Linked DNA regions of Homo sapiens. The protein of the gene in region 1 interacts with the protein of each later gene in a pairwise test. Each region holds a gene or a part of one and is shown in the gene's direction. Other genes may lie near its edges. The genes, in order: MAGOHB, MID2 and C18orf54.

Region 1 (3,622 bases):
ATGCTTTCAATAAATATTTGTTAGTGGAAAGGAGAAAGGAATGAATGCATGATAACTATTGGACGCAAAATCTGTGTTCACAAAGACCATCCAAATGCTTTTAAACTATCAAATTTCTTTTCCTACATTTGGTAAGGGTGTGGCATTGATACCCTACTGGGATTATAAATTGGTAATGGTTTTTGGAAAGCAGTTTGGTAATATGCATCAAAAACTGTTGACATTTTTCATTCACCTTTGGCCTAGTAATTTCATTTCTGAGCATCTCTTCTATGGAACTATTCCTAAATATTGGAAAAGCTTTATTATGCATGAAGATGCTCATTGAAGTATTATTTATAATAGGAAATTAACCCCAGTGTCTAACAAGGAGAGAATTATTAAATTAATTAAAAATTACTAGGGAATTTTTTTTTTTTAATGCTGTGGGGAAAGTAATGTAAAAAAGGGCACAAGGAATAATTTTAGTTATTAAAAAATAGAGAAACATCAAAATGTTTATAGTTATTCTATGAAATGGTAGCATTACAGTATTATTTTTTTCTGCTTTATTAGACATTTTTATGATGTGGTTATTACAATCATAAGGATATGAACTCTTTAAATACTAAAATGAATACTGATGAAGAAACTATTTTTTCGTATAGAAAAGATATTAATTGTATGTTCATTTTAGTTGTCAGCAAAATCCTTCCTTTCTCCTAAATTTTGTTAACTTAATTGTTATGAGATTTTGATTTGTTTTGTTTTAGGCATTTAAAGAATTGTTTTATCCTAGGAAGAAAAAGTAACTTTTACCTTTTTAAATTTTAGGGATCCTGAAGGCCTTCGAGTATTTTACTATTTGGTACAAGACTTGAAATGTTTAGTTTTCAGTCTTATTGGATTACACTTCAAGATTAAACCAATTTAAATTGTATGTTTTCAGGCTGTTTGTATATTTAATTAAGGGATGGGAGGGGTTATTTGTCATTTACAGTATTGGGGTTTTTATGAATGTGAAGCAAACAAAAAAAATTTGTATGTAAACTGAAAATAAGAAAATACATTAGCAAGCTTAATGGTTATCCTTACTTGAGTCCATATGGGTTGGACAGTCCCCACACACATTAAATTCTGTAAATGAAAGCCACCTTTTGTTAAAAATTTGCTCTAATAAAACATACCAAATCCTGGTTGCAGAGTAGTTTTTTGTTTTTTCCAGGAGGCTATGTCTCTAATTCACTTTAGAGATAATAAGAAATTGTTCTGGTAGATATATCCTGTGACAGAAGATACTTTAGGTGGAACTATGTAGCCAGATTCCCATCCATGAAAGGCAAGTGTAGATTGTCCCTTATTTCCTTCATACATGATTGGATTTAATTTTGGGGGGCTTATACAAGGTCTAGTTTTTTTTTACAGTTATGACAAACCCCTCAGGGATTATTCACATTTAAATATTTTCAGTTATAAGCAGTGAGGTCCTAAAGTGTTACAAGAGTACAGTCTACCCCATGTTAGGCATATCTTTGATTATGTCTTTATTCCTTATTTCACAATGTATTTGGTGTGTAGGGGAGGGGGGAGAACTAAATGAGTTTTCAGCTTTATAAATTGTTAAACATTTAGACAAACATATATGTATGTATGAATGTACATAAATATTTTTAACTCCTATTGACCACGAGTCTCACTTCAGTTTCCCAGTTCCTTTCAACCTCTTTCTGATAGATTTCCTCTTTCATTACTTTTAGTAACCATGTTCCTTGTTTCCTTTTATTCTTCCATCTGAAGCCCCACTCTTAAAAAGTTGCACTGTTCCAGTAGTTATAATCCACTTGCCCTAGGAACAAGTTAGCACTGAATTTTGGGTGGAATAATTAGTTTCTGAAGGCTTGCCAGGACTCCTGAGCAGGTAGGCTCTAGAGTCGGGCAGTCCAATAACTTTTTTGCAATAATGGAAACGTTCTATGTGCAGTCCAATAGGGTAGCAACTGGCCAAATGAGGCCTACTGATTACTTGAGGTGTGCCTTGTATAACTGAATTTATGGTGCTATTTAAACAATTTTTTTCTAACGTGAAAAGGATAAAACATTAAAAACTCTTGAGAACTATAAAGTGAACACCTATATGCCTACCCCTACCTAGATTCTATACTTAACATCTTTTTTACTGTAATATCTCTATTATAATAAATCTTGGTTTTTCACTTAACTGGTGTAATTGGTGCCAATAAACTACTTTTTTTGTAGTGCTATTTAATTTTGATTAAATTTAGGTAGCCACGTGTCTAGCGGCTACCGTTTGGACAGTATAGCTCTAGAGCATGGCTTGGTAACCTGTTTGCCATGGAGCACTAGATGGTCCTTTTCACTCCTCAAAATGCATGCCCATTGTCTTCAGGTTTGCCATGGAAAGTCAAATGATTTCCACTTCATTATGCAAGTACGCTATCATCTTCAGGTCTTTTGTATGTAAAATGTTTCTGTTCCAGTTGTAGACCTTGATGATTGTGCAGTATGAAATCGTATTGTAATTTTCTTGCATTTAGATGTCAACCTCAGAAACAGGAACAATCGTCTTTTGAACTTCCAGTAGGCCCACAGTTGTTGGTTGTTCCTCAAAACAGGTTGTGGCTCCTGTTGAATAAGATGATCCATTAAAAACTGAACAAGGTTGAGGAGAAATAGTGCTTACGTTGAAAAATCTTTAAGTCTTTGTCCCCGTTCTCTAACTTCCTTACGTTTTCGTTTATTTAGCTCTATCCCCACTATCTACTAGAATTTCTCATATTTAAACCAAGATGGGAGACTAGGTCATTAGGAAAATATTACCGTCTACAATTTTCTTATACTTTGATCTGTCTTTTATTTGATTGTAAGTTGCTGATGGACAGTGATCATTAGAAACTGAATTTTGTATAATACTAGTTTTATATGAAACTAGATTTTTATTGCGCTCAGGTTATGTTCCTTTTACCTCCTTCCTTAATAAAGAGACCACTTGAAATAATCAGACTTTTTCCAAGTACTGTCTGCACCTCATCCCACCTCTTCCCCATTCATGAGATAGTGCAGAACCCTAGCACAGTCTTTTCCATATAGTAGGTGTTTTTTAAGTTTGTTGAATTGGTTGCTGTCTTGCTCTGTCCTTAGATTATTTGCCTTTAGATTATTTATCTTTGGTATTTCATTGGTATCAGGCTGAGTCTATTTGTATGGATATTTTTAATGTAAATATTAATGTAACTGAGATGATTTATATATTCTATTGTTAGACTACTTCGTTTTGATTTGAAATGTGTGAACCTATGAGCATGGACTGTGCTGTAAGTTTAACCACTGACCCCTTTAATTAATAACTGGATTCCTAGCATGAATGGATAATGAAGTCGAATAGAAAATTTTAAAAATTTAATAAACAACAAAGGTAAATGAAGGATTTGAGGGTGAGTTCAGAATCTGCCTTGGCTGACTTCCGTATGATGATCAGTAAAGTTGGATAACTACCACTCAAAATCTCTGGCATCTACCTTGTCCTAATTTGAACTGTGTGATGTGGTGGAGAGAATACTAATTTAAGAATCAGAAGTCTTAATTACAGATCAGCTTAACTATTTTCTCTTAAATTGCCATCGGG
Region 2 (2,799 bases), on another chromosome or scaffold:
ACAAGTTATTCTCTGGGCCTGCAGCAGAAACATGATTAACAATTTTAATGCCCAGAGTAAACAACAGAAATTTTTCTTAAATTAAAGGAATAGTGTGAAAATGCTGTAAGTACAGAAAATGCAACCTCCATTCCAGTAGAACAATTTCCTTTGCCTTGTCCTTGGCTCTCCAAAACTGTTCATTTATTGTGGTGTCTTTTAGATTTTAGTGCCCTGGGACAAAGATCTAATTTCCCCACCCTACTTTTGACTCTATCCTGGACTACCTTTCCTCACCTCTATCTCTCTCAACCAGACTAACTCTTTATTCCTTAGACTTGATGATGCATCCCTCTTTAGAGATCCAAAGACACCCCAAGCATCCCCCTCTCTCAGCAATAATCACATTGTATAGCAGTGTTTTTCAAAGTGTGGTCCTCACACCGCCTGTGTTAGAATCACCTTTAGTGTTTGTTAAAAGAATTGATTTTGGGTTCCCACTCCTGACCTAACCAGAATATCTGAGAACATAGGCAGGAATTTACATTTTTGACAAGCTCCTCATGATTCTGATGCACCAAAAATTTTAATGAATAATCATCTTCCCTACTAGACTGAACACCTTGAGAGGAAGGACTGTGTCTTTTATTGTTGTTATATTGTTAATACCTGGCACAGTGCTTGGAACATTAGCTTGGCTAATGTTTATTGAATGAATGTATGAATGAAAAAATGCATTATGAAAGTTTCCTCTTGTACTCTCATGTTCGTAGTGATGTTTGTTACTTCCTGGGCAGAAAAGCTTGGTTACTACTCCATTTGAGCTGTATTAATTCTATTTTGCAGAGATATCAAGGCTCCTACATAATAAATGATCATTGTCCTCCTCAAAAACTCTTTGGCAGTTATCTTGGGGAAATGTCTTTGGAGCATATGGCACCATTGTTTTCAGTAACATTTCAGTCTTGTCAAACTTTGTTGTTTGAAGGTGGATTTACATTTCGGTTATAGCCAAAAATCACTCAAAGCTAAGCCTACTTAAAAAAGTGGGGAATTAAACTGGGTTTGGAGTAAGCAATGAAGTTTGACTCTGAAGTCCCAAATTCTGAGTCAAACAGTGAAAAATGACTTCTAAGATACAACATGGTGACAAAGTACTTAGTGGGGGTGCGATGGGCCCCAGATATTTACTTCAGTTAACTTGGCTTTTATAGAATCCTGGCAATGCCATGGACCTTAAGAGAAGTAATTGGCTACCTCTAGCTAAACCCAGCTGGACAAAGAGAATAGGACTTGTATTTAACATTTTCAAAGAAGGTGACTGCATAAGCTTTTGTTGTTGTTGCTCTACTCAACCTGTTCTCCACAACTGTTTCTACCAGAAGATTATTTTATGTCTGCAATTTATGCTTGTTTCCACTTTTTATATTGTCTTATTGAAGAAAGCACAAAAATAATCAAAAATAAAGTAAAACCTGTTTTGAGAGTATGAAAGAAATTTTAATGCCACATTGAGGTTCTGGCTACTTGTAAGTAAGAGTAACTGCATCTGGATGTGTTTTTATTATACAATTCTATGTGTATCTTTAGATGCAGTGAAATTCAGATTGCAGCAAAATCACTTATCTGTTCTTTTCGGCTAAAACACTCTAGGTGAATTTTCTAAACTTCCATGGTTTACATATTTATATATGACTACCAAGATGGAGCAATCCACGGATGGACTTTTGAATAAACTCAAATATTTGATACTGCTTCCTCCAAGGAATGGAGAGTGTCAGGCAGGTAGGTAAGAACCACTCCTACACTTATTTCTAGCTCCTGAAGCCAACTGCAGCCTTGGAGCCAATGGCTGTATTTGGCTGTGTGTTACAGGTTGGCCAAACTGATTGCCATCAGGTCAGACAAAACTGCCTTTTATGGTGTAGTCTGCCAGCTTCAGACATATGCTGTATTGTTGTTATTGGCTAGACTATTTATTAGACTATTGTTGGACTATTTTTTATCAAATGCTTTACCCCACGCCTGTTTGTATTGGGAGCTCTGGACCAATAGTGTCTCTCCTAGTGACAGAAATATGAGCATCTGTGGATTACACAGCCTCATCCCTCTCTACAATATTCCAGCCCATCCAAAATGCTATATTATGAATTAAATAAATATATATGTATTCATGAATTCTTTGTTGTCTCTCGCTGGAGTTGAATTGGGGGAGGACTAAAAGGAAGATGGCCGTGGATTCTCCTGGAATTGGGTAAGTGACTAGGGGAAACCAAGGATCATATAATAGGTAGTGATCTGGACAGAAAGGACCCAGGGGGTCTGGAGCTCAAAATCCAATCAAGAAGACTTTGATTTCAGGAGCATGATATGGTCAAGAAGACCAAAGAAATGAAGATATAGGGTTCAAGGAAACATGACACATTCAGTTTTAGAGATTGGAGCAGAAGTTGAGAATTAAAGAACAAATAAAATCCCAGTGCTGGAACCCATTGATTAAGATTAGGGTAGCACCAGAAGCAAGTGAGCTGACTTACTGTTAAAACAGCTGGCCTGCAGGAGGAGACTGGGAGGAAGCCAGGAGGTCCCTCAGGGCTAGAATTGGGCATATCTTAATCAGATTTGTAGTGGCACTAAGACTAAAAGGGATCATGCGATATGAAGTGAATGAAGCAGGGCAGTCAAGGGCGGCAGCTAGAGAAGTGACTTGAAACAGGTCATCAGACCAGGGGCCTATAAGAACTACAGCCCAAAGGTAAAAGGAGTAAAATTCAAAGGAGAAAAGAATTTGGAACATTGTGTGTTTAGTGGTTTAATTGA
Region 3 (3,663 bases), on another chromosome or scaffold:
ATCATCTATGTTGTAGCATTTGTCAAAATTTCCTTTTCTTTTTAGATTGAACAGTTTTCCATTGTATGTATGTACCACATTTTGTTTATTCATTCATCTGTTGTTGGACTCTTGGGTTATCTGCATCTTTTGGCTGTTGTGAATAATTTTGTTGTGAACATGGGTATACAAATATCTACCCAAGTCCCTGTTTTCACTTCTTTTGGATATATACCTAAGAGGGAAATTGCAGGATCATTCAGTAATTCTATGTTTAATTTCTTGTGGAATTCCTATACTGTTTTCTACAATGGCTATAGCATTTTACCTTTCCGCTCCATTTCTTATATCCTGTTCTATAACTGTGGAAGTGTCTTTAAAATCTTTTTAACCATACTGCTTACCTTGAGTATATTATGCTAATCAACAACTTTCTATAGAATTGAAGTTTAAGTAGTACTTATGGTGCACAGTCTATGCTGAAATATATTAAATTACAGACATCTGTACAGTCCTATTTGTTACTTGGTAGATAGCTGTTAGGACACAGAAACTCATTTGAAAGATGTAAAATAATAGACTGGTAAGACTTTTAAAAAGAAATTTTAAAATATCCCTCACCGATTATCTTAAAAGAATCCTGACCATCTTATGTGTCTTAAGTACTGCTGCGTTCTTTGAACACAAATAAGTCCAGGGGTAATCGAGCTATGAGTGTTATTTAGGTAGAAGGAATGTATGGCCCATGAAGAGGTGAAAAGCTAGCATTCTGTTATAAAAACATATTTTAAAGTGTGCAGAGAATACTGTATTTGAAATTTTAGTCCTTGATCAGCTGTAAAGAACATGTTGGTTTACCTGTCCTCTGAAGACCTTTCATTTCATTTACAATTTGTGATTTTAAATGTGCGAAATTAATTTGTCATAAATATAAACGTGCACTATTTATTTCAAAACAGCAATGACTAGAAAGGATATGCCAAACTGTTAATCATGATTGTCTTTAAGTAACTTCACCTGGGGCCTGGGGATGGGGAAGTGGTGAGTTACAATTTTGATTTTTTAAAATACTTTATTGACATACATTGTTTGGAGTTTTACATTAATTTTCTATTGGGGAAATTAATACAAAATAAAACTCTTCTTTCCCTGAGCTTGGATGGTTAACTTTATACTATCATCTGTTTTAACCTTAGAGCTGTACTCTCTCTGGAGGCAAACATCATGGTCCTGTTGAAGCCCTGAAACAAATGTTATTTAACCTTCAAGCAGTACAAGAACGTTTTAATCAAAATAAGACCACAGATCCAAAAGAAGAGATTAAACAAGTAAGCACAAACATGATTTATGAATTGAGATTTGTGAATTTGTATAAAGATTTTTTTCTACATCTTTTAATAGACCTACTTATAGTTTTATGTTAGTAAGCATGCCACATTACACATGTTGTAAGTGGCAGTAGTTTTTTTTTGTTAGGAAGTAATGTACTCACGTTTAATTCTGTTTGATTTCTGTAGGTGTTTATCTCTAAACAGATTGTTCTATTATGGTTATAAATCCAACATCTTATTTAGTTATGATGGTGTTACAACTATAGTATCAAAGGGTTGTAAGAGTTTTGTAATCCTCTACAAAATTAATCTATGTGGCCCATCTTCTGGTAGTTATATTCGAGGAGGCCTAGAAAACTTTTTCAACATTAGATTCCTTCACACACCTTTCTCCTTTGAAATTTAATTTTGTTACTGTGTGTTCATTGGCTGTTATGAATACAGTTATATCAAGTTTTATTTTAGAGCCATTTTATTTTTTCAATTTGTGTATTTCCCGGGAATTTGAAAATCTGTTTCTGTTTTAGGCTGCCATTCTATATGATGAATTTTTTCCCACAAAAGTATAGTGTTTAAGAACATAGAGTTTATATTTTCCCAAATATGATTGTGAATTCTGTCACTTACTAGCAAGTGCAATATTTGTGCAAATCATTTAACCTCTTTAGTTTCAGTTTCCTATTTAAAAAATTATTGATTTTTAATTGACAATATATATATATTTTGGGTGTACAACATGATGTTTTGAAACATCATGAAATGGCTAAGGGAGCTAATTACCTCACATACTTTTTGTGGAGAACATGTAAAACCTGCTCCATTAGTAATTTTCAAGTATACGATATGTTGTTTTTAATTTTAGTCACCATGTTGTACAATAGATCTCTTGACCTTATTCTTCTCGCCTAACTAAAATGTTGTATCCTTTGAAAAACATCTCTGCAACTCCCGTCCCCACATCCAGATTCTACATATAAGTGAGATTATTATTCAGTGTCTGTCTTTCTGTGCTGGGCTTATTTCATTTATCAATTTCCTTTTCTGTATAGTGAGGTTGTTGAGAAGACAAATTGAGACAAACTATATAAAGTACTTAGTATAGTGCTTGGTACATGGTAAGTGCTCAATAAATGATGGCTCATTGTTTTATTGTTATTCAGTAGATCTGTGAAATTGAGTTTTCATTACAAGTGAGTGGATCAGCTTTTGAGAACCTTCATAGTCTGCTCATTTGAGTTGTATTTCTTAATTTCTGTCCTTACATTCTAATAATCATAACATTAATATGTAGAATGTAATCTATCTTTCTTTCCCCTCTCATTCTAAACATCATTGAGATATAAGCCTGTTCAATAAAGTCATAATTTTAAGCGAAGACTTGATTTTTAATGGACATATGTGTAGAAGTATACTTTAGGACAGTTGAAAAATGGCTGTTAGTTGTAGTGTTTTTACAGTAAATGGAAAATAAAAATATTTAATACTCTTGAAAATTAGAATTGTTTGGAAATGTAGAAAATATTTTTTAATGTTTTAATCACATTTTCAATACCATTTAATTTTGTAGTTATATAATTTTAATATTTTGTTATATTTGGTGTTTTTAATAATAGGTTTCAGAAGATGATTTCTCTAAATTACAGTTGAAGGAAAGTATGATTCCTATTACTAGGTCACTTCAGAAGTAAGTATTCTTTACTAATATGGATACAAATCCATCTTAGCCATTTCTTTGACATATGTAAAGTTACAGGGTAGAAGTAAGTAGTTTTAAGAGTAGCACTACTAGGCATATTTAAGCTTCTTGGAGCACACTGTTTACACTAAAAAACATTGTTTTCTTTTAAACTTGTGCTTTTTCCTATTCAAAGTGTTCTAAGGACCTAATGAGATAGCCTTAGACCTCTAAAATATAATGGATATGACTCATTTTTGAGTAGTAATAGCAACAATTTATGATAGTATTTTTGTGAGTATCCTATAACAGTAACTTGTATGAAATGTGTTTTCATATATTCTCTCTAGAATAAATTTAATAATAAATGGATCGTGATTTGGAACATCATTACAGAAATCTAAAGTAGATATAATGACCTGGATATAAAGATAGGTCTAATTTTCTTAGTTACAGTGTCTTAAATAATAAAATGGAGAAAAATACAAGTTGTTTCTATAGTCATGATATTGACAGAAGAGAAGGGTATTTATTTTGGAGTTTGTTGTGTGACTATGAAGTGTCCTCAGAAGATGGAATACTGAACTTAGGAAATACTGAGATTAAAAGTTTCTACTCTAGTCACACCATTTCACTTGGCTACCTTTTGTACTTTGAGAATTTGCTTAGGCTTCTGTG

What was found.
Region 2: the proteins of MAGOHB (region 1) and MID2 interact in binary tests that used the Homo sapiens proteins (3 or more experiments, as listed by UniProt).
Region 3: the proteins of MAGOHB (region 1) and C18orf54 interact in binary tests that used the Homo sapiens proteins (3 or more experiments, as listed by UniProt).

What each region holds. Positions count from the first base shown.
Region 1 is NC_000012.12:10,603,566-10,607,187, reverse strand, and holds the end of MAGOHB (protein mago nashi homolog 2), read left to right. Parts: intron 1-813; coding exon 814-913; 3' UTR 914-2,995; downstream 2,996-3,622. UniProt on the Homo sapiens protein: Required for pre-mRNA splicing as component of the spliceosome. Plays a redundant role with MAGOH in the exon junction complex and in the nonsense-mediated decay (NMD) pathway.
Region 2 is NC_000023.11:107,929,481-107,932,279, forward strand, and holds the end of MID2 (probable E3 ubiquitin-protein ligase MID2), read left to right. Parts: 3' UTR 1-2,157; downstream 2,158-2,799. UniProt on the Homo sapiens protein: E3 ubiquitin ligase that plays a role in microtubule stabilization. Mediates the 'Lys-48'-linked polyubiquitination of LRRK2 to drive its localization to microtubules and its proteasomal degradation in neurons.
Region 3 is NC_000018.10:54,371,291-54,374,953, forward strand, and holds part of C18orf54 (lung adenoma susceptibility protein 2), read left to right. Parts: intron 1-1,175; coding exon 1,176-1,307; intron 1,308-2,923; coding exon 2,924-2,994; intron 2,995-3,663. UniProt on the Homo sapiens protein: Might play a role in cell proliferation.